Linked DNA regions of Homo sapiens. The protein of the gene in region 1 interacts with the protein of each later gene in a biochemical or structural test. Each region holds a gene or a part of one and is shown in the gene's direction. Other genes may lie near its edges.

Region 1 (7,882 bases):
CATGAATGAGTTGAGGGCAGATAGGTGACTTGAATTAAATTCCAGGTGACGGTTTTACAGTTGTTGGCACCAGCAGATGGGGATCAGAGGGCCCACGTGTGGAGAGAAGGGTAGAGGGTGGGGGTCTAGGCTAGTTGTATGTTGATAGGGGCCATCGATGGTAGACTCTGGATGAGGCAGAATAGGCGGGAAGAAGGGGGAATGGCACCAGGAAGCATCAGGTTGGCCCCCAAGAGTTGGACCTGCCGTCTCTGAGAGACTGGCTGGCAATAGGTCCTGCTGCAGTGGAGCAGTGGGTCCAGAGGAGGTTATTTTTGCTTTTAATATGAAGGTGGGTCCTTAATCATCAGAACAGGAACTGAGAATGATGGTTAGTGTTTCTGAAAGAAAAAAGAGCCATGGGGGAATGGAATCAACCCTTTTTCACAATTTGTTAGGCAGTTTCACAAATTAACTTATTTGAAACTAGCCTCCACTCTAGATAAGGAAGCCAAGGATCAGAGAAATCACATAATTTGTCCAAGTCACATCCCTGGTATGCAGGCAGAGTAGGGATTTGAACTCAACTGTCTCTGTCTTCAGAGAGTGTGCTTTTTCCAGATCTTGCCTGGAAGACATGATGTTCCTCCTTTCCCTTTGTATCTAGCCCCTACTTTACTCCTCAGCCACTCTCTCGTTTCTTCTGCTTCATGCAATTCATTCTCCTGCCATCTTTTCTTCTTCTTTAACTTGCCATAATTTGCAATAGATATATTTATTAAACAAAATCAATTTTTAAAGTAGACTGGTTGAAAATGTTATAATTTTCTAAAAAACAAGATTCCAATTCCTCTAAAACTAAAGAAGAGTTGTTTTGTACTTATTTATAAAAAGCCTGTAACTCATTTTCTTTTCTTTATGTGTCATTATAATCAAGGGAAACAGTAGGGCCATGAATATATGATCAAAATATTAGAGTTGAGAGATGTAGAAACTGAAACACAAAGAAGCTCAGCGACTTATTTAGAATAAATTGGCTAGTTCCTGAATGATCCAAATAATTGAGAGAAATAGGGAAAATCCTGAGTTAACAAATAAATACAGTTTCAAAAGTGTGTTTGTAAATTAGTTCTCTGGCATTTGGTATATTTCTCTAATAAAAAGAAAATTGATGTGACCTGAGTGTCTCATAGAAAACAGCTGAAACTCATTATTTATATCTAAGAATAGTATAAAAAACTCCCCACAATTATTATGTAGTACTTATAATGAACACAACACAAAGACAATACACTGAGAAAGAAGGACTTTAATTTTTAAATGTGTAAGAAGAGAAAATTTAATTAGAAAGATGAAAGACTTAACTGGCGAATCCGGCAGAGATTCTAAAGATGACATTTGGACACTGATAAAGGCCATTGGGGGATGAATGACAGACACTTGTTTTTAAGAGTGTGAAAGCTGTCCTTATCAAAATGGAGTCAATTGTGTTAAAAAACGAGACAAATCCCTGACAAATGGCTGGGGAAGGCCATGAAGGGAGGGTTCTAATACATAAATGCCTGATAACAAGAACTATTGAAAAATACTGCAAAAACCACAACTTTGGACAAAGGCCATTGCAACCACACACACACACACACACACACACACACACACACACAGAGAGAGAGAGAGAGAGAGAGAGAGAGAGAGAGAAAATGAGAACTTCTGCGGAGACATCTGCCCAGCAACTGCCTGTACAACATTAGACTGGTGCCACTCTAGTTATTGATTACTGTAGCCAAGGATAATTATCTCAAAAACAATGATGTAATCTTCCTTCTTCCTTGAAAAACCTTTGCCTTCCTTTACCTCCCTGAATACGCAAAATAGTTTAATATGGCACACATATTCCCATTGCAATGCCCATTCCCAAATAAACATCATTTTCTTTTAGAAAGTCTCCCTCTCTGTTTGTTATTAGGCTGACAAGAGGTAGTGAAAGAGATTTCCTGAGTGCCTATCATTTATATCACTCAGTAGTTAAGAACATCAGTTGTTCAAAATCCATCAATTAAATACACAATTCAAAGCAGAATCTTTATGTGGCAATCTCTCTTTATTCTAAATAAGTCGCTGAGCTTCTTTGTGTTTTAGTTTCTACATCTCTCAACTCTAATATTGTACCTTCCACTCCAGCCATTTTAGACAGTTCAAATCACACAGACACAAAGAGATACTTTCCTTCTCTTGGTTTTGCAGTTCACTTAACCAGACCACCCTTTCTCCCCTTCATAGTTTGATAAAATATCCTCTCTCAAAAGCCTAATCCAAATGCTATGTCAACCATCTGACAAAATATTAGCTCCTTCCTCTGAAACTAATTGCATTTTGATTGCATTCTAGGCATTTCTTTCCTGATTTATAGTCTCTCATTGTAGTGTTCATATACATGCTTTATCTATAATATTAAGGTGCAAACTCTTAGGTATGGCCTTTCCACAGGTGCTCAGTGTATAGTTGTCAAATACAATTAAATTGTATCAATTTAGGTTTCTGTTCAAGGCTTCTCAGAAATGGCTTCATATCACCTTTGCAAAATAAGTGTTCCCTTCATTTCCATTCCCTAGCCTTTATTTTCTTTATACCACGCATCACACAGGACATATTAGATACTTGTTTATTGTTTGTTTCCTCCACCAGAATGTATGACCTATGAGGGCAAGGCCTTTGTTTCACTTGCCGTGTTTACCCCAGCACCTAGATCTGTGCCTGGTCCAGAGTAGGAGTTGAATAAACTGATATTACTGGAAGTGAAAGAAATGCTACCTGGAGTATTTCAAGACTCTGAGTCCAATAACTCATCGATTTTGTCAGTATTTAGCTGCAGGACATAGAGCAAGTCACTAACCCATGATGAGTCTCATGTCCCTGTAAAATCAATGATTGTTAAATACAGGATCTCTGAGGTCCTGTTTAACTCCATTAATGTGAGAGTAGAAAGTGAGAGAAGCAAACTGAGTTCAAGTGGATATGGGTGAGAAAAAAGAATGCTCTAGGCAAGACTACAGGTCCTGCTTTTGGTGCAGGGCAGAGAGAAAGTAGAAAAGCTGGAGCAACGGAGACAGATGCTCAGAAAAGGGCTGCCTTCAGATATATTAATACCTGTAAAGAAAACCCGGGGGAGGTGCTGACTTGGGGAGAGCCTGAGGCTGAGTAGACAGCTGGGCTGGTGGAGAGGAGGCTCCCAGAGGAAAGGCAACCCGCCAGTGGGGTGGGGGTGATGGGGTTGGCAAGCTCCACAAATTTTGCAATTTTGCCTCCTTTCCCAGAGAACAACCACTCTGTTGTGACTTTGTCAGGGCTGGAATAGGCATGTGGTTCACACGTGAAAGCGAATGAGAAGTTCTATACAAAGAACCACATTTGCTGTCCATTTAATTTATTCTTCCTCATTCTCAAAGAAGACTAGATCCTCATCTCTTACCCTTAACCTCCACGTTGAGAAGCACTTTGCCCTTCCCATTCTAGCATATGTCTAGAACACTGCATCTAGTGTCGCAAACTTGTCCTCTTGCCCCCTCTGCCCTGGCACCTTCCCTCCCCACACCAGTAAGTCTGAGAAGGTCCCTGTGTCTTCTACTTTTCCTTTTCCAGCATATGGAGACAAAAGTGATTATATCCCGGATGCTAATCCGCCATGTTGACCTTTAATAACCCCAGTCCCATGAATACCTCCTGATTCCTAGGATTTTTTTTTTAAACTGTCCTTAGCATAAGAACATGTCAACCTTGATGCTATTGCCCACATTGTAGGCTATGAAGCATACGGCATTCTCACCTGTTCCGGAGGGCTGCCTTTAATTGTCTTGCACAGAGCAGTATACTCTTTCCTTACGGTATATAAGGCCAGGGTCTGGGGAGTAACAGTGCAGAAATTTATCTGCTTGCCGCCGCCCAAGGCCACGCTTCTGTCTACCACATCCTCCAATAGCACCCCTATTACCTACAGACTGGATTTGTCTGTCTCGTTCTTTGGTTTCTTGACTCCTTCGCGTTTGGGGGCTGCTTTGCATATAAAGCCCTTTCACAGAACACAGCACCATGCTAGTACAATACGCTGTAGATTCTCCCTCCCTCCCCCTCTCTCTCATATACTCATATATTTTATGTTGAACCAATATGAGGCATTGCTCAAATTTAAGTCATATTAAAGTTCTAGGCTAGTTTTGAAAACAGAAACTGATTGGAAGCAGAGGTTTTCAAATAGCCCACATACGCTACTAGAAGGCTGTACATTTAAGAGAGGGCCATCTAGGAAGCAATAATAGGCATTAAAACAACAACAAAACAACAAAACAAAACAGAAACAAAAACAACTTGGGAAACGGCCCTCCTTTCACGTTTTTTCTATCCCATCGACAAAGGCGCGCTGTCCTTAGCTGCGATGATTTTGTCTCGCCTCCAAAAAGACGCCCACGCACTATGTTGAGCACCCAAGTGAGGCTACGGTTCCTGCGGTCACAGAGGGCAGGGAGGCTCAAGCACCTCCAAAACCCCGAGCCCTGGACAGCTCCCCAGGCCCTTCCCGCGGCGCGAGGACAAGAGGTCTCCGGGGCCCTCGGGGGAGCGGCGCCTCCTCCTGGTTCCAGCAGCTCTGCGGCCGCTCCCCACCCAGGCCCGCGAGACCAGCGGGACAGTCCGCGCCGCGGGAGACCAACTGGGACGAGCCGCGACCCACGCAGGCGCGCTGAGGCCGGGGCAGGGGCGGGCCCGGCTGGCGCGGCCGGCCTGCGGTTGGGGCCCTGGCGGGGGTGGGACGGGCCAAGCCGGGCAGGGCCGGGGTGGGGCCGCTGGCGTTTCCGTTGCTTGGATCAGTCTAGGTGCAGCTGCCGGATCCTTCAGCGTCTGCATCTCGGCGTCGCCCCGCGTACCGTCGCCCGGCTCTCCGCCGCTCTCCCGGGGTTTCGGGGCACTTGGGTCCCACAGTCTGGGTGAGTGGTCGCAGCCCGGGGAGGGGGCTCCTTCTGGAGAGGAGAGCGTGGTCGCGGGGCACTGGATTCGCGCGGACGCTCGGCCGAGAGCTGTCCCGGTAGCTGCGAGAGGGCGGGTCGGCCCCGTGGCGGGGCCCTCCGGGCTGTCTGAGCGCCGCCGGGTCCCCGCGGACCTGCGCTTGGGGAGGGCACGAGTTGCAAATGGCGCGCTAAGCCCGAGGTTTCTTCTCTTTTGCAGTCCTGCTTCACCTTCCCCTGACCTGAGTAGTCGCCATGGCACAGGTAAGGCCGTGCGCCCCCCACTGCGCTGGATTTACCCACAACTTTGTATGCTGCGACGAGGGACTTTTAGGATTTGTCTGAGAGCCAAAAAGTTTAGGAGGAAAGGGAACCTGCTTTGGGGACATCGCTTCCACTTTTCTTGTTCCCCCTTTGCTTCCCTGCCCCCGTTTCTGTGTCCCGGTTCTTCCCGCTGAGCGCCCTCCGGAACCAGCACCGACGCCGCCAAGCTGCCTTCGCGCGCAACAGCTGGTGACGTGGCCGGATTTGTGTGCGCTCCCTTTTCATGAGTGAATGTGTAAAAGTGGGCCTTCCCCAAAATCCAGAGAGTAGCTCAAATTAGAACCGGAGCAAGAACAGCTCATCGTGGTCATGTGAGGCGAACGCATTCCCCCCCCACCCCGCCCCCCGACTTCCTTTATTTTTTTTCCGCAAAGTTTTCTGTATTTTAATACTGTGATTGAGCATTGGCTTTTTCCAGTTGCTCAGCCCAGTTTTACTAAAACTGTAGGACGTAGGCTCTGATTTTTTTTTTAATCCAAAAGATTAAACACAAGCGCTGTTTTTCTTAAGCAATGAACTCGTGGAACGAGTTCTCAATTGAATTTGCCTTGGGACTGTTTCAGAAATTGATAATCTACTACAGGCTTTCTTTACTGTTTTTTTTTTTTCCTTTTTTTTTGAGACGGAGTCTCACTCTGTCGCCCAGGCTGGAGTCCAGTGACGTAGTGATCTCGCTCACTACAACCTCTGCCTCCCGGGTTCAAGCAATTCTCGTGTCTCAGCTTTCCAAGTAGCTGGGATTACAGGCGCCCCACCATGCCCAGCTAATTTTGTATTTTTAGTAGAGGCGGGGTTTCACCATGTTGGCCAGGCTGGTCTCAAACTCCTTGCCTCAAGTGATCCTCCCGCCTCGGCCTCAGGACTGTAATCCCACTGCGCCTGGTTTCTTTACTGTTATTAATGTTTATCAAAAATGTAGGAAAGAGAAGATAGTTTAAGGTCTTTAAATATTGACCATGTTATACAGTCTTTTGTGAATAAGATACCAGGGCTTAAAAACTCTAAAACTGATTTCACAGATCTTGTCAATCTAACCGGCTTGTCAGAGTCCAGATAGTTTTTTTTAAACAAGTGTTTTAACTGCTAAAACAATGCTGTCTCTTATTTATAGTTCACTTTTTATCAGATTGACTTATCAAAATTGAAAAAGGTTTCTTGGTCCTTTCCAAGTGAAAATGGGAGGATTAAGATTAGTTGATTACTTTATGAAACTTACACAGTGATCCCATTCTTACCTCCTCTTTTGCACTTAAATGTTACAGTAAACCAATTCTCATATTACTTCAAGTGGAAAGTTTGGTTTAAGTTCTTCTCCATAGAAAGGATACTTTTATGTGGAATTAACTTTCCTGAGTAATATTTTTCCTATCTTGATATGCTGGTGTGGTGATGTACATGAAGATTTAACAAGCATCGAATAATAATTCCCTCTATCTTTGCTCATTTAGCAGTTTCTTGAATCTCTTGTAAGTTCCCCAGTGATGTCTGAGGGTCCATCAATTCCTTTTCATTATGTAGACTGTTTACCCAAATAGTATAAGCGAACATATTTTCCAGTTGTGGACATTAATTTTAATAATTTCAAAGAATGATTAGTATCATAAAGGCCATGTGTATAGAAAACCTAGGAGAATGGTGGTTTGCATATAAAATTATGTACCTGAGCCCTATGACAATATAACACCAAGACTGTTTTCTATCAAAACTACAGTTTTTACTAATCATAAAAGTTACAAGTAATGTTTTAAAAAAGATACAGAGTGTTAAATTTTGTTCTAGTTTTGTTACTATTTTTGGAAATCATGAAAGTAAAACATTTTGTTAAAATATTTAGTATTGGCCAGGCATGGTGGCTCATGCCTGTAATCCTAGCACTTTGGGAGGCTGAGGCACGTGGATCACGAGGTCAGGAGTTCGAGACCAGCCTAACCAACATGGTGAGACCTCGTCTCTTCTAAAAATACAAAAATTAGCTGGGCATGGTGGTGCACAACTGTAATCCCAGCTACTCGGGAGGCTGAGGCAGGAGAATCACTTGAACCCGGGAGGCGGAGGTTGCAGTGAGCTGAGATCGCGCTGCTGCACTCCAGCCTGGGCAACAGTGAGACTACGTCTCAAAAAAAAAGTTTAGTATTAAAGTTGGGTGCGGCGTCTGAGCAGTAAGAATGTCATGAAGGCAAAACTAGGCTACGTAATTGTTCATTAGAAGCTTCATGAACATCAGAATTTTTTTGTTTATTTTTTATTTATTTTTTATTATATATATATTTTTATTATACTTTAAGTTCTAGGGTATGTGTGCACAACATGCAGGTTTGTTACATATGTATACATGGTGCCATGTTGGTGTGCTGCACCCATTAACTCAATATTTACATTAGCTGTATCTCCTAATGCTATCCCTCCCCCCTCCCCCCCGCCCACAATAGGCCCCGGTGTGGGTGTGTGATGTTCCCCTTTCTGTGTCCAAGTGTTCTCATGAACATCAGAATTATCTCTATGGTATATGTTTAAGTTACAAGGTTTGATCAGAAATATTTTCGGTTGGTTTAAAATTATTATAATAATTTAAAAAAGCCCTGTGC
Region 2 (7,108 bases), about 67 Mb from region 1:
TTGTGAAAGGAGTCAATCTCAATTGGGAGTTTTTTTTCAAAATTTTTATACACACAGATATATACACATGCATGTGCATGCACAAACACACACACACACATACACACACACCCTCATGTAGCACAGATATCTATCAGCAGAATAATCTGTGGATGCCTTTGGTTGTGTGAGGTGTCCCTTCCAGTCATTCACTTGTCTGGTTAGAGTTTAGGAACCTGAAAAATGACCAACTTTTCTAGTAAATACTATTAACTCATTAATAAAACTAAATTTTCTTCTAGATTACAGATCTCCATTTATTGCTTCTGTTAGTGACCAACATGGAGTCGTGTACATTACTGAGAACAAAAACAAAACTGTGGTGATTCCATGTCTCGGGTCCATTTCAAATCTCAACGTGTCACTTTGTGCAGTAAGTTGCATCTCCTCCAATCGTCTCTTAAGTTTTTATAATTTTAAGCTAATATTAAGATGGGTAACCTGTTTATAATATTCACAATGAGTTTTAAGGATCCTTTAGGAAGGGTCAAATGCAATGAATAAAACTAATTAGTATTCTTAAAAATAAGATGAATTCTTCAGTGATCATTGTACATGGCTCTCATTTTTGGTACTGGATTAAATATTTGATATGTCTTTTTATTACCCAGAGATACCCAGAAAAGAGATTTGTTCCTGATGGTAACAGAATTTCCTGGGACAGCAAGAAGGGCTTTACTATTCCCAGCTACATGATCAGCTATGCTGGCATGGTCTTCTGTGAAGCAAAAATTAATGATGAAAGTTACCAGTCTATTATGTACATAGTTGTCGTTGTAGGTAAGAGGACATTTCCTTTCCATATCATTAATAACATATCCTTGTATTAAGATCTTGGAGATAACAACATAGAGTGAAGAAGGATATTGAAAAGTATAGGAACTCAGGATATGGTGTTGGGCAATTCATCTGCTCTTCTCTACCAAATAAACCCATGTGCAATTGAGGTTGTCTCTTTTCTTGCCAAGATTAAGGAAGAAAAAGAAAACTTTTTAAAAAAAGGATGAAAGCGAATGGTATTACTCGAGCACATTTTATGAAGAATTCAATGTTCAGAGCATTGCTTGCTATCAATTATTTCAATTATGACTATTTTATGGAAACTTCAGCAATTTGCTAAAGCTGGCCCTACTGGCCTAGGGCTACTGACCACTGAAAGTTTACTACTTTTCTGTCCACTGGGTTACAACATCTTTGAGATCTGTGAAGGTAGTGCTTTGTAAACCTCTGTTGGCCATTTTCCTGGGAGCTACCAAGTATTGGTGAGGCCTGCAGGGAAAAACAATGTGGCATGTTTTAAAGTTGCATTACTTTAAAAAATAAATCTGTGCAAAGTTATAGGCTTATTTGCTCTCTCATGTTCTGTTTTTTCAATTTACTTGCTCTAGGGTATAGGATTTATGATGTGGTTCTGAGTCCGTCTCATGGAATTGAACTATCTGTTGGAGAAAAGCTTGTCTTAAATTGTACAGCAAGAACTGAACTAAATGTGGGGATTGACTTCAACTGGGAATACCCTTCTTCGAAGGTAACGCTAATGATTCAAAGCCAGACCTCCAAATACTTAGATAATAAGCCCCAGTGAAGTTTGCTTGAGAGATAGGGGCCTCTTTGGCCAGATAAAATGTAAGAGCCTTAAACACACACACATACACACCCACTCACACACACATACACACACACACAATTTAAGGGAATTGCAGAACAGATAGCACCCACCAAAAGGTGAAATACCAGGAATTTTGTCCTATTCTGCAATAGCCAGGCTATGAATATTAGTTTTCTCTAGGTGATTACATCTTTCCACATTATGTCATTTCTCTGTTCTCCAAAGTTTTTGATCTACATTCCTTTTAAGGGAATTTCTCTTTAAGAGGTGGCATGAGATACACTGCTCCTTAAACAGTGGTCACATTTACTTGTGTTTCTGCAGTTTATATCCATCTCACTTTCACCACGTGAGGTTTTAAAAATCCTAATTCAGTTGGTTCCATTTATTTCTCCTGAAACAAAATATATTTGTTGTCTGCATGAGGTTAAAAGTTCTGGTGTCCCTGTTTTTAGCATTAAATAATGTTTACCAAAGCCCAGATTTAATTCTGTGTGTTACTAGAAGTTATTGGGTAATGTTATATGCTGTGCTTTGGAAGTTCAGTCAACTCTTTTTTTCAGCATCAGCATAAGAAACTTGTAAACCGAGACCTAAAAACCCAGTCTGGGAGTGAGATGAAGAAATTTTTGAGCACCTTAACTATAGATGGTGTAACCCGGAGTGACCAAGGATTGTACACCTGTGCAGCATCCAGTGGGCTGATGACCAAGAAGAACAGCACATTTGTCAGGGTCCATGGTAAGCTATGGTCTTGGAAATTATTCTGTGCCTTGACAAGTGAGATAATTTAAATAAATTTAGGTCACTTAGTGATTCCTATTTTGTTCATTCAGAAGATAGTTTCTAGTTTTTCTTGTTAGGGAGGCCACATGACCTAGAGGTCAAGAGCATAGCTTTGTAGTCAGGAACTTGGGTTCAAACCTCAACTTTAAAGATGAGATGTGCTGATATACAGTAAGAGTTCATTTAGTATTACTTATTATAGTTATTGCTGCTATTAGGATTGTTACTATGATAAATAGTATTAGCTAAGGTAGTTTTTAAATTTTCATTTTATTGCAAGGCTGAGAGGCCTACTTGAATAAGCATGAGCTTTGCAAACTGGGGAAACATTTAGCAATATACAGTTGACCTGTGAGCAACTCAGGGATTGGGGGAACTCAGGGGAGTTCCCCTAACTTTCCCTCCTCTGCAGTCAAAAATCCATGTATAGGCCGGGCGCGGTGGCTCACGCCTGTAATCCCAACACTTTGGGAGTCTGAGGTGGGTGGATCACCTGAGATCAGGAGTTCGAAACCAGCCTGGTCAACATGGTGGAACCCCATCTCTACTAAAAATCCAAAAAATTAGCCTGGTGTGGTGGTGGGAGCTTGTAATCCCAGCTACTCAGGAGGCTGAGGCAGGAGAATTGCTTGAACCCAGGAGGTGGAGGTTGCAGTGAGCCAAGATCGTGCCATTGTACCCCAGCCTGGGCAACAAGAGTGAAACTCCTTCTCAAAAAAAAAAAAAAAAAAAAAATCAAGGTATAACTTTTGACTTCCACAAAACATAACTAATGGCCTACTGTTGACTGGAAGCCCTACTGATAACATAAACAGTCAATTAACACATATTTTATATGTTATATGTATTATATACTGTATTCTTCCAATAAAGCTAGAGAAAAGAAAATGTTATTAAGAAAATTGTAAGGAAGAGAAAATATATTTACTATTCATTAAGTGTAAGTGGATCATCATAAAGGTCTTCATCCTTGTCTTCACGTTGAGTAGGCTGAGGAAAAGGGGGAAGAGGAGGGGGTGGTTTTGCTGTCTCAGGGGTGGCAGAGGTGGAAGAAAATCTGCTTATAAGTGGACTCATGTAGTTCAAGTTTGTGTTATTTAAGGGTCAACTGTAATTGAACTGGAATTAAATTGAACTGGCCTTGAGAAAATCACCTTAATTTTTTGTTTATTCTCTTTCATTTACATAAATGTCTGAGTTTACATGGTAATTTGTGTGGCATCCTACTTATAAGCCTTGGAAAGGATTTTGGAGTTTATATTATGAGAATGCATCAATACAGTGAAATTTTAAAAATACCTTAGATAATGCTATTTATTAGAGTTGTAATCATAAAAGTGGCAACAACTATAACAAGTATGATTTAGTGAGCACTTACTTTATTAGCTCATCTCATCTTTGAAGCTGAGATTGGAACTCAAGTTCCTGACTACAAAGCTATGCTCTTGACCTCTAGGTCACGTGGCATCCCTAGCAAGAACTTGAAAATTTCTTCTGAATGAACAAAATAGAAATCACTAAGTGTCCTAAATTTATTTAAATTATTTCACTTGCCAAGATGCACTTGTCAAAATACACAGAGAGAGATGTGCTCTGGCTTATGTTTTTATAGAATTACTTTTGTTTTCCAGAATACTTCAGGGAAATAGGGGCAGAAATAAGGAGGTCAGTTGGGAGGCTAATTGCAGTTATCCAAGTGAGAGTTGAGGGGTGGCTTAGACAAGGGTAGTTGAGGTGGAGGTAGTGAGAGGTGATCTGCTTCTGGATATATTTTGAAGGTAGAGTCAACAGGGTCCGCTGATCAATTCATTGGTTGTGGAGTATAAGAGAAAAAGAGTGGAAGATGACTCGAGCGTTAGCATGAGCAACTGAGTAAATGATGGTGTTATTTACTGAGATGGCAAAGATCGAGAAGGCAGTGAGATTTAGGGAAACAGTGTTAGATATGTTTATCTGGAGATGCCTGTTAAACATCCAAGTGGAGATATTTAACATATCAACCCGGAACCCAGAGGAGTCAGGGCAGAAGATAACACATTTAGGAGGTACGTGAATGATACTTTAAACCTGAGGCTAGAGGAAGGTGTAAATAAAGAGGAGGTCTGAGGACTGAGTCCTGGGGCCTCATGGTGGAAGAGGTGTGTGGAGGCTGTCATGGGAGCAGAGGAGAAGGAGCACCCAAGCATCCCTGGGGGACTTAGAGAAAGCTGCACAGAGGAGCAAGTGTTTGAGTTGAGACTTGAGCAATCACTAGGCTTGTGGGAGTGCACTAGCGGGGAGAGAAAAGCAAATGCAAACACAGGAGGTGTGGGAGAAACACGGGAGGTGTGGGAGAAGCTGAAAAGTGACCCACTGAAAGATAGTACAGGAAATCTTGGAACTGCAGCTACTCAGACCCTCAAGGTCTTTGACGTTTCACTTGAAATGAAAAACTAAATCAAATGACCATTTACAGTAAGTTGACCTTTTTTTTTTTTTATTTTCTTCCAGAAAAACCTTTTGTTGCTTTTGGAAGTGGCATGGAATCTCTGGTGGAAGCCACGGTGGGGGAGCGTGTCAGAATCCCTGCGAAGTACCTTGGTTACCCACCCCCAGAAATAAAATGGTAACTACTGGAAATAAATGCAAAGCATCATTTCGTGTGAGAGCAAATCCTTTGACTATACTAATTCCTGAGAATTTTTTTTCATAGGTATAAAAATGGAATACCCCTTGAGTCCAATCACACAATTAAAGCGGGGCATGTACTGACGATTATGGAAGTGAGTGAAAGAGACACAGGAAATTACACTGTCATCCTTACCAATCCCATTTCAAAGGAGAAGCAGAGCCATGTGGTCTCTCTGGTTGTGTATGGTGAGTCCATTCAATTTTCCTCTCTGCCCAAGATTTATTATGATACATTGTCTTCCAAATCAGCCAAACCACCGTTCCTCTGCCTCCTGCTGCTTCACTCATATCATGGCTGGGCCTGCGTACAAAAGTCATCTGGCGTGGTGAAGCTGAAGTGAAACGTAGGACCATGTGCTCTGGCCATGTTTGTTTAAGAGGCCGTGTAAATGAGCTTTGTGGTGGACAAATGCAAGATTAAAGTAGTGATACCCTCGATAGCTAAATGTTGTGAAATAAGAATGCCCACAGGGACAGTTGTCAAGCTAAGTTATACTACCATGTTCCCCTCTCATGGAATTGCCCACCTGGTACACAGATGTGTAAGACCCTTCTCCTTAGATTTTGTGCAAAGCTTCTAGTTTGATGTTGTAGTTGATGTATCAGAGATGTGCAGGCACGTTCCAACTCTGAAGGCTTTTGAAGTTGACACTGTTGGCTTGGTTGGGAGCTTTTCTTTTTTCCTTTTTGACAGGAGTTCAGGATCTGATTTTGAGTCTGTAAAGGAAAGATAGTAAGTTTTTGATGTAAAGATAATTTGAACTTTGTTTTCTGAAACTGAAAGGTACAAATAAGTGTTTGGAATGGAGTGGGGAGAAGGGTGCCATGGTCAAGTGAGTGTGAGAGGTGCTAAGGTGATGTGTAGATGTGTAACAGGTTTCTTTATTGCAGGACTTCGCAGAACCTTTTATATGCTAATGTATATTGGTATTCTCCAGGAGGAGAGACATAGAGTATTCAAGGTTTAACAAACCTATTTGACCAGAGCACCTTTTTTCCCCTGAGCAAATTCATTAATCTCTCACTCCAAACAGTTTGAGAAATGCTTCTCTGTTGTAATTCTTTGTTCCCCCTTCTGGTACGGCATATTAAAACTTCAGGATATTTTCCCATGACATTAAGGTGCTTCCCTACGTGTCCTGATACTCTTCTGTAGGCCGCTGAACTTGGCTTTATTATTTTTTTTCAGGGAATATTTTAAAGATAGGCTGGGTGCCGTGGTTTGCATCTGTAATCCCAGCACTTTGGGAGGCCGAGGCGGATGGATCACCTGAGGTCAGGAGTTCGAGACCAGCCTGGCCAACATGATGAAAACCCGTCTCTACTAAAAATATAAAAATTAGCCAGGCATGGTGGTGGGCACCTGTAATCCCAGCTACTTGGGAGGCTGAGGCAGGAGAATCACTTGAACCCAGGAGGTGGAGGTTGCAGATAGCCGAGATCGCACCATTGTACTCCAGCCTGGTGACAAGAGCAAAACTCCGTCTCAAAAAAAAAGTTAACAGGTTCCAAAAAGGTTGTTTAGAAGCAGCATAGGTGTAGGGGACTGGGGAGAGGAGAAACTGGAAAGTGTATAAGTAGGATGGGAGGAGGAAATGAACAGGAAATAAAAACAAAACACGGACAGCAAATAGCCCATTTCATCAGTTCATGAAGCCACTAAATATTTTATTCACTTTAGCAAATTCTCTGCTATATGAAATAAACATAAAAAAGAAGTCAAGTCTTCAAAGCATAATCTGAGGCTTTAGGTTGACAGTAATAAGGAAATAGTTTTGACTTTGGAGTCAAAAAAGAAAGAAAGGAAAAAGGGAGAGAAGAAAGAAGGAAGTGAGAGAAGGGAGAAGGAAGAAAGGGGAAGAGGGAAAGGGAGTGGAGAGGGAGGGAGGGAGGAAGAGGGAGAGAGAATGAAAAACTCAGATGATGGTGGCAGGAATGCATTCTCTAAAGATTTACACCTTCCTTTAACATGAGGTGGTTTACGTGTTTGGGTTCAGAAGTCAG
Region 3 (7,956 bases), on another chromosome or scaffold:
CATTGAATCAACTGTGTCATGTGACTTTACAGCACAGTAATGCAGCTCTAGTGAAAATACCAAAAGAATTGCAAACATAATCAAACGGCTTATATTTTTTTTCAATATTCTGGTACGAATATTGGTATTTTTATTTTGAGAAATTGTGAGTATCATGGAATAAACAAATGAATAACTATATTACTGGCATGAGTACTAGGGTTTTTAGCATGGGACCAAGCAGCTACAGATACAAGATTGAGGTCATTAAGTAAACACCTGTGGTCCTGAATGTGCATTGGCTACATCAGTAAAATGTTATCATATATCTTATATTTAATGAACACCCTGTGCATACGTTTCTTAGCTGTTCACTAGATAGAATGACCAACCCAGAAGCAATGTGCATCCCTAGGACCCAGACATCCAGGCACTCAGACTGTGGTTTCTATTTCCCACAAAAGAAACTAAGAGTCTGTGGAGAAATGTCTTATTGTAGATCTGGGCCACGAAAGGTACAAAACATTAGAAGGAAAGAAGCTATAAAAAAAACTACTGGGATCATGGTCAAAAGAACTCAGGAGCCAACTGGTAGAGGAGAGGCTCTCACTGGCCAAAAATGGGGAAAAAATTCTGAACAATAGTAAGATTAATAAGTGCCACGGACTGAAACACATACAATACATTATAAACTGAATGTTTATAATGATAAACACACACACTTTCCTCACTACACCTGTGGAGGATGCTGGGAGCAGCTTATTGTTCTAAATGCTGGTAAAGGCATTTCTCCTGCTTTTTCTATACACACTGTACTTCAGGGTAATCAAATAGTTGATGAAGGGGTGTTTTTCTTTATAGAGAATATCCTAGCTAATAAATAAAATACAAATGATAAAATCAGAATATCATCATTTTATAACCTATAATAAAATATTGACTGTAGGCAATTACCAATGTCCAGTAACACCAAAGAGACACCAGCAATTAAGGGCTTCCTAACAGAAGTATATCATACCACTCTCTGTAAAGGGTTCTTGCCAAAAAATGTATTTGTGTGTGCTGTATCTGTGTGTGAGTGAATGTGTGTATCTCAAACCTGAAATCAGATGAAAACTCTAGATTTAACTACCAATCTCCACAGTAGCAAGTTAAGTGACAACAAATTCTAGATCACAGGAAATTGCATGAGACAGATGACACGGCTTTTCAACAAATAAACTGCAAGGGAGTAAAAAGTGACACAAGACACCTAGAGTAACAGGTTTAGTCCATTTTACACTACTATAACAGAATGCCACAGACGGGGTAATTTATGATGAACAGAGCTTTATTCGGCACACAGTTCTGAAGGCTAGGAAGTCCAAGAGGATGGCACCGGTATCTGGAGAGAGCGTTCATGCTGTAGTATCGCATGGCAGAAGGCAGAAGGGCAAAAGAGGGCAAAAGTGTGCAAGAGAGCAAAAGGGGGCCGAGCTTGCTTCTATATAAAGCCCACTCTCACAACAACTAACCCATTCCCACAATAACATTAATCCATTTATGAGGGCATAGTCCTCGCAACCTCATCACCTCTTAAAGATCCCACTTGCCAAAACTGTTACATTAAGAATTAAGTTTCCAACACATGAACTTTGGGGGATACATTCAAACCATGACAACAGGGATATATGAATCAACCTAATTTCAACAAACAATTTATCAATCAATAAAAAATATATGTGGATATGTATGTATGTGTTTCTATATAATATAGACATGTGTATACATATGTTTGTGTATATACATGTCTATATATGTATGTGAACTACAGGATTTGATGATATTAAGAAATGGCTGATTTTTTAATACGATGATGACATTGTTTTAAAGAAAAAAGACTCCTTCTCTTCTGGAAAAATATACCAAAATATTCACAGGTAAATTGGTACAATATATGGGATTTACTTCAAAATTTGAAGGAGTGGTGAATGAAAAGAGAATTGAGTGACAGCGAGTTGAGATCAGTTTGAATGACAGGCATATAGGCATTTATTGTAACTATTCTCACTACTATAAAAGACAAGTTTTCTGTAAAAAAGTTTAAAAAGCATATGAACACAAATAACAAAAACCAATGTAACTAATATTAACAAGGTGGTAATAGAACACTGATATCAGACTATACATTCTAACTTAGGAGGCCATCATGATCACCTGAGGAGCTTCATGAAAATATAGTCTTTGAACCACCACTATTTTAATGAACCTCAAAGGCTGAAGGAATTGTGCATTTCCCTCAGGACAGCAGGAGTGGGGAAAAGAGGCTGAGAACCACTGTGTAAACACTTTAAGGGTATAGAATATATATTATTCACCCAGTATTTATCTTAATGTCTAACACTTAAGAAGCACTTAAGAAACATAAGGTGAATTAATTAACGATCCACAGATGTACAAATGAATAGGCAAGCTTAATAGTAGCTAACTGCCAGATGTGAAAAAAATCATTATTCATATTTGATATTTAAAAAAATTACTCAGGTTATAGAGTTTAAAGAGTATGGCTCTCTGTTTTGAGTGGAATGGGTTTCCTTCATAAAGCCACAGACTAGTCACTTCAAACAGCTACAAGTAAACACCCAGAGTAAAAATAGTTTTAAATACACAATTGGGTGGGGTGTGGCTAGAAAATATTCTGATTCTACAATCTGTTTTGGACAAGACAGTGCTTCTTATGTGACTAACAAAGCAAACAGCAGTCAGATTCCTTGTGCTGAAATAAGTACACTATTTGCAAAAAGGGTTGAATGTCCAAGGCTTATTCAATAAGGACACCACATTTTCCAAAACTAAAGGGGAGTATAGAATGACAAATACCCACATATATTTACATATCCCTAAAAGAAGACATACAACCTCCTGGTATGGATTTTTTTGTGTCTCTAATAAGTACTAACTGGAGCCAAGTCTACCATCTGACCATGGAGAACAGCAGAATACCTCAAGCACAGGAATAATCTAATTTTAAAACTGGGAGGAGCTTAGAAACCACCTAGTCCAAACTTTTCATTGTGTTGATAAAAAACAGACACCCAGAGAGGTTAAAGTGAAAGGCTCTGAAAATTGTTGCAATAGCCACAGATGAACAAATGGTATACACAGGGGCATAGCACTATGTATTAAGAGCTGAGAATTAGTCTTCTGAACGTTCACGAGTGATAACTAACAGGGTATCAGTCTCAATTATAAGCAAATAGCAGTATGTGTGTGCATGTGTATCACCATATATACACACAAAATATTAAAATATATATTTTAATAATTCCTTTCAAAACAAATTCAACCTAGCATTCAAAAGCATCCATAAAGTTACCTCACCTACTTTTTCAAAATTGTGTCCAAATGGGCCATAAGCCAAAAGGCAGGTGTTTTCTCTCACTTATCTTTTGTAGTCTCCTACAGATGTAGCAGAGTACATATTATAATTACAAAAGCTATTCCATATATAATTTCCAAATGATGAATTATAAACTTTCCTATTTTGTTATTCTAAACTGCTATAAGAAACATATTTTATATGTATCTATGAGTATTATACAGAGATATATACAACAATGTAAATTTTTTTAATATGGCAATCAACAAAATGCTTACAAGCAAGAGGAGAGAGGCAATGAGATGCCTTATCCATTTACATTTCCATAAAGGGCTATACAAGGCTTTGTTTAAAATACAGAAAATTGCTTGAAGGGGAGAGAAAGGGAAAAGAAAAAGGACAAATCTTTAGTTCATTCACTGGTCAAACTTTCAATTATTTCAATTATTGATTAGTCCTGAATCCATACTACTTTAATTCTGTGGAGGTAGAAAAATGATGTGTCTATGCCTGTGTATGGAATTGTCCTCCTCAACCAGTTCACCTGCATAGTCAATTTGATTTTGATTCAAAACGATGAAATTAAATAAGATGAAAAATTTGGACTCTCAACTTCCCACCTTTATTAGATTTTTTAGGATCCTAAAAACTGATTTTAAAGGCTTCCTAATATTGTTAAACAGAGTCTAACTACCAAAATTGACAACAATAGTGTTTACTTCCACCTTTGAGGGAAAGTGTTTCTAATTGGGATGATTCCTAACTGCAAGTTAAGCCAATAATATTTTTTTTAAGCTGAAAGCAAAGTTTGAAAATTTTTTTCTCCTGAAATAAACACAGCAATCTTATGTAAATTAACATAATATGAGATTATCAAATTAAGGGGTTTTTGCAAACTCTACTGCAACTCTAAAGTAAACCCAAATTTAAGCAAGAAAATCTGAAGTCATTTACTGAATATAGCGTAGTGTTGTGAATAAGGGATCTAAATCCTAAAAGCCTAAAAGTAATTAAGAATTGGGGTCAGCTATTTTCACAAAAATTTATGAATATTAATAGACACATTGATAACTTTATGTAATAACTCAATAATTTAGATGATGGTCTAAATCCAGTACCCCCTTCAAGGAATTTTATCCGCTTTTATGTACTACCACATATTATATAATATCAACCAATTAACATAAGAATGTGCTTTTCAAAAATAAAAAGGGGGTATCATCATTCCACCGTGAACCAGCCTGAACACTAGAGTATTAATTAATAAAATAGAATCACAGACAAAGACGGTCCTTGGTTAAAACTATTAATATATATTTAAGACAATGGGTTTATTTTTAAATAAGAAAACAAGGAAAAGGAGAGCCCAGCCCGATCTTGTGTGCCTACCCAATAGAACTTTCCACCATAATTAGTGCTTACCAACTTTGAGGGGAGGAGCTTAAGCTCAGGGTAACCTCATGTAGTAAGGGAAAAACAGTATAAATACCACTGAACAGCTCTTGAGAGGCACCTTCTGCACTGCTCATCTGGGCAGAGGAAGCTTCAGAAAGCTGCCAAGGCACCATCTCCAGGAACTCCCAGCACGCAGGTAAGCGTACGCTTACTGGTGGACTTCCATGTTAACTTGCTTGGAAAGAAACTTTAAAGATTTAAATACTTGAGTTTTCTCAAGTATTAGAAGTATTAAAGTGATTTAAAAAATGGGTTTCTACTAAAATGCACTCCAAAAGTTCTTTTTGCATCAGTCTGTGGATGATAGTCCCAATAAAACCATATTGTAAAAATTTGCCCTAATCCGAATTTCAGTGTATTTTGAAACTATTAGATATTTCAGGCTATGTCAAAGATCCTAGATTATTTAATACAGACATCCAATCCTAATTTCTGTTTCTTTTCCTTTAGGTAAATCATTTTATTTTCACTTGATTACCTGAGTATAGCTTCCAAAAATAACTAAGACATATATTCACATAACTAAAAAATGATCTCTCATTTATTTATGGCACATATTAAAAATATATAGGATAGGTTAAAAAAGTAGATAACTGTATAAAGAACTCATCTGTGAAACATGAGAATAAAAAAATAGGTTAATAACAATGCTGTATAAAGTTATTCTTTTCTGTTTTTCAGAATCCATCTGAGAATATGCTGCCACAAATACCCTTTTTGCTGCTAGTATCCTTGAACTTGGTTCATGGAGTGTTTTACGCTGAACGATACCAAATGCCCACAGGCATAAAAGGCCCACTACCCAACACCAAGACACAGTTCTTCATTCCCTACACCATAAAGAGTAAAGGTAAATTGAATTGTATATTTTGTTCTATTAACAAGTTGCTTGTTGCTTTCTATAATCTTAATAATCTCTTTAACAAAATGCATTTAACTTTGGTGTTACTTTCCAACTTCTGAATTAGCCCAAATTATTACAACAAAGTGATCTGTGAAAAAAGTAGAACAAGAATATCCAATAAGTGTAGTAGAAAGGATATACTTGAAAATATAGTTGAAAGATATACCTGCAAAAAATCAGAACTTTTGTGTGTACAAATTTTTTTCTCAGATGCTGCTTTTGCACAAATAACTGCATGTAATCCAGAAATCTTGATCTAATCAAAACTAATCAAGTTTAAAAATTTTAAGCTAAAAATAACTGCCAATTGTATAAAGAAGGTAGCTGGTTTATTTAGCTAAATATTAAACATTTACTTTTAAAACTAATTCAACTAGCCCACAAACAGATATAAAACCGAGTCTTATCAAAAAAATCTGATGGCCTCCCCCCCAACAATGAACAAATGTAATTATGAGAATTGCCAAGCAGGCAAATGAAACTGCAATTCTCATAATTACTTATACATTTTGAATATAGTTTAGCGGTAAAATGCAGAGACTTAACTGTAATGCATAAGCTGTGTGACCTGAGGTAAGTTACTTGTCCTCCCATGCCTTAGTTTCCTCATTTGTAAAATAAGGAGCAGCTATCTCAAGGGCTGCTGCGAAGTTTAAATGAATTAATACCTGTAAAGTGCTTTAAGTGTTGCTATTACTTCTACTACTACTTCTGTTACTCCTAGTTTTATTTCTACTACTTTTAGCTACTAATATAGCCTTCAATAAGTTAACTTTCTTCTTGAATCTGTTGCTTACCTGTCCAGTTTTCTTGGTTACTCTTTGAAGATTACTGAGATAATATATGTAAAGCACTAAGGTTCTCAAAGGAGGGCAACTTCTAGGCCTCATATTCACTAATTTTATTTAACAGCAACTGACACGACCGCCTATAAAATATCTACAGAATAATATAAACTGACTGTAGGCTTCAAACTCCCTTTCCATAATTTTTTAATTATATATTTTATACTGTAAATAAAGCTAAGGATATTTGTTATAAAGTTTAAATATTATGCTTTTGGGAACAACCATTTTGAGCAATGAAACTTATAGAATTGTCTTTTTAAGAAGAAAGATGGAATTTAAAATATTTCACAAAAGGAAACTTAATATTTGAAAATAAATGCACAGGTATACAACAGATACTTTTGAATGTCTCAAAATATAAATAAAAATTTTAAAATTTAAAGGCTAGTAAAGAAAAAAATAAAAGACAAAGCAACCTTCCGCTTTACTTGAAGCAACAAACACAATTTGAAATGCTATGACAAACAGCACTGGATTCAATAGTTTCCATGATCACAAAAATCAGACTTTTTAACACCTTAATAAGAGCATAACAAAGTCTTGAATTAAAAAGAAAATGCACTATTTTAGAAGGTTAAAAATACTTTGATCTTCTCTTAATATACACCATTATCTTGGCTACTTTTGCAGAACAAATGAAAATATCTTAACAAATGAAAAGTTCAGAAGCTGTATTTAAACTACTAAATCCACCTTAGTCTCTTTTTAGATAGACACTCAACTACACTATCATCCATTGGCAGACATTAATGCACCATAACAAACACAAAAGCCCACAGTCTATACAAGTAAGACATTAAGTTGAAACAGGAATTCAAAGAGTTATTACATAATTCCTAGGCATATCCATCCAACACAGGTTAAAAAAGAGTTCTGTCAAAACATACTAAATTATGCTGCAGAGGATTCCACAGCTGGTGGGCAGATGCACGTGCCACATTCTGACACAACCAATCACGATTTCAGTTTGTGGCATTTAAAAAACTTAATAGAAGGAAGTAGTCGTTTTACCTTGAGGATTGTGCCACCCTAATCTTGAATGAAGAAAATTTTTTCAGATGACAACCTACAAACAGGGGCTGTCCCCCAAGCATTCAATAGAAGCCAAATTCTTTCTCGCACTGAGAAGTTGAGACCCATTAGGACAACATTCCAAGTGACAAAGTTCGCCCTGTCACTGGAGTTCCAGTCTCGGATGACGCCCAATGCACTCATTTCCATTGACTTGTTTCTCCTTTTTAATAGTAAAACAGATTTCCAATCAGACTAAGACAATTATTTTTAGTGTGAACATGACCCTTATAATCAGATTCTAAAGCAAAGCTCAATCTAACATAGTTGGCATTTTAAAAAATCCACTATTTTATTCCTCCAACCCATTAAAAAATTCCTTATTTATTCCTCTATTTGCA

What was found.
Region 2: the proteins of ANXA5 (region 1) and KDR form a complex in vitro, tested with the Homo sapiens proteins (one study listed by BioGRID).
Region 3: the proteins of ANXA5 (region 1) and COL10A1 form a complex in vitro, tested with the Homo sapiens proteins (one study listed by BioGRID).

The regions. Positions count from the first base shown.
Region 1 is NC_000004.12:121,693,936-121,701,817, reverse strand, and holds the start of ANXA5 (annexin A5), read left to right. Parts: upstream 1-4,837; 5' UTR 4,838-4,955; intron 4,956-5,193; 5' UTR 5,194-5,228; coding exon 5,229-5,237; intron 5,238-7,882. UniProt on the Homo sapiens protein: This protein is an anticoagulant protein that acts as an indirect inhibitor of the thromboplastin-specific complex, which is involved in the blood coagulation cascade.
Region 2 is NC_000004.12:55,108,585-55,115,692, reverse strand, and holds part of KDR (vascular endothelial growth factor receptor 2 precursor), read left to right. Parts: intron 1-281; coding exon 282-412; intron 413-650; coding exon 651-819; intron 820-1,427; coding exon 1,428-1,567; intron 1,568-2,211; coding exon 2,212-2,389; intron 2,390-4,924; coding exon 4,925-5,039; intron 5,040-5,126; coding exon 5,127-5,290; intron 5,291-7,108. UniProt on the Homo sapiens protein: Tyrosine-protein kinase that acts as a cell-surface receptor for VEGFA, VEGFC and VEGFD. Plays an essential role in the regulation of angiogenesis, vascular development, vascular permeability, and embryonic hematopoiesis.
Region 3 is NC_000006.12:116,123,025-116,130,980, reverse strand, and holds the start of COL10A1 (collagen alpha-1(X) chain precursor), read left to right. Parts: upstream 1-4,848; 5' UTR 4,849-4,928; intron 4,929-5,473; 5' UTR 5,474-5,488; coding exon 5,489-5,642; intron 5,643-7,956.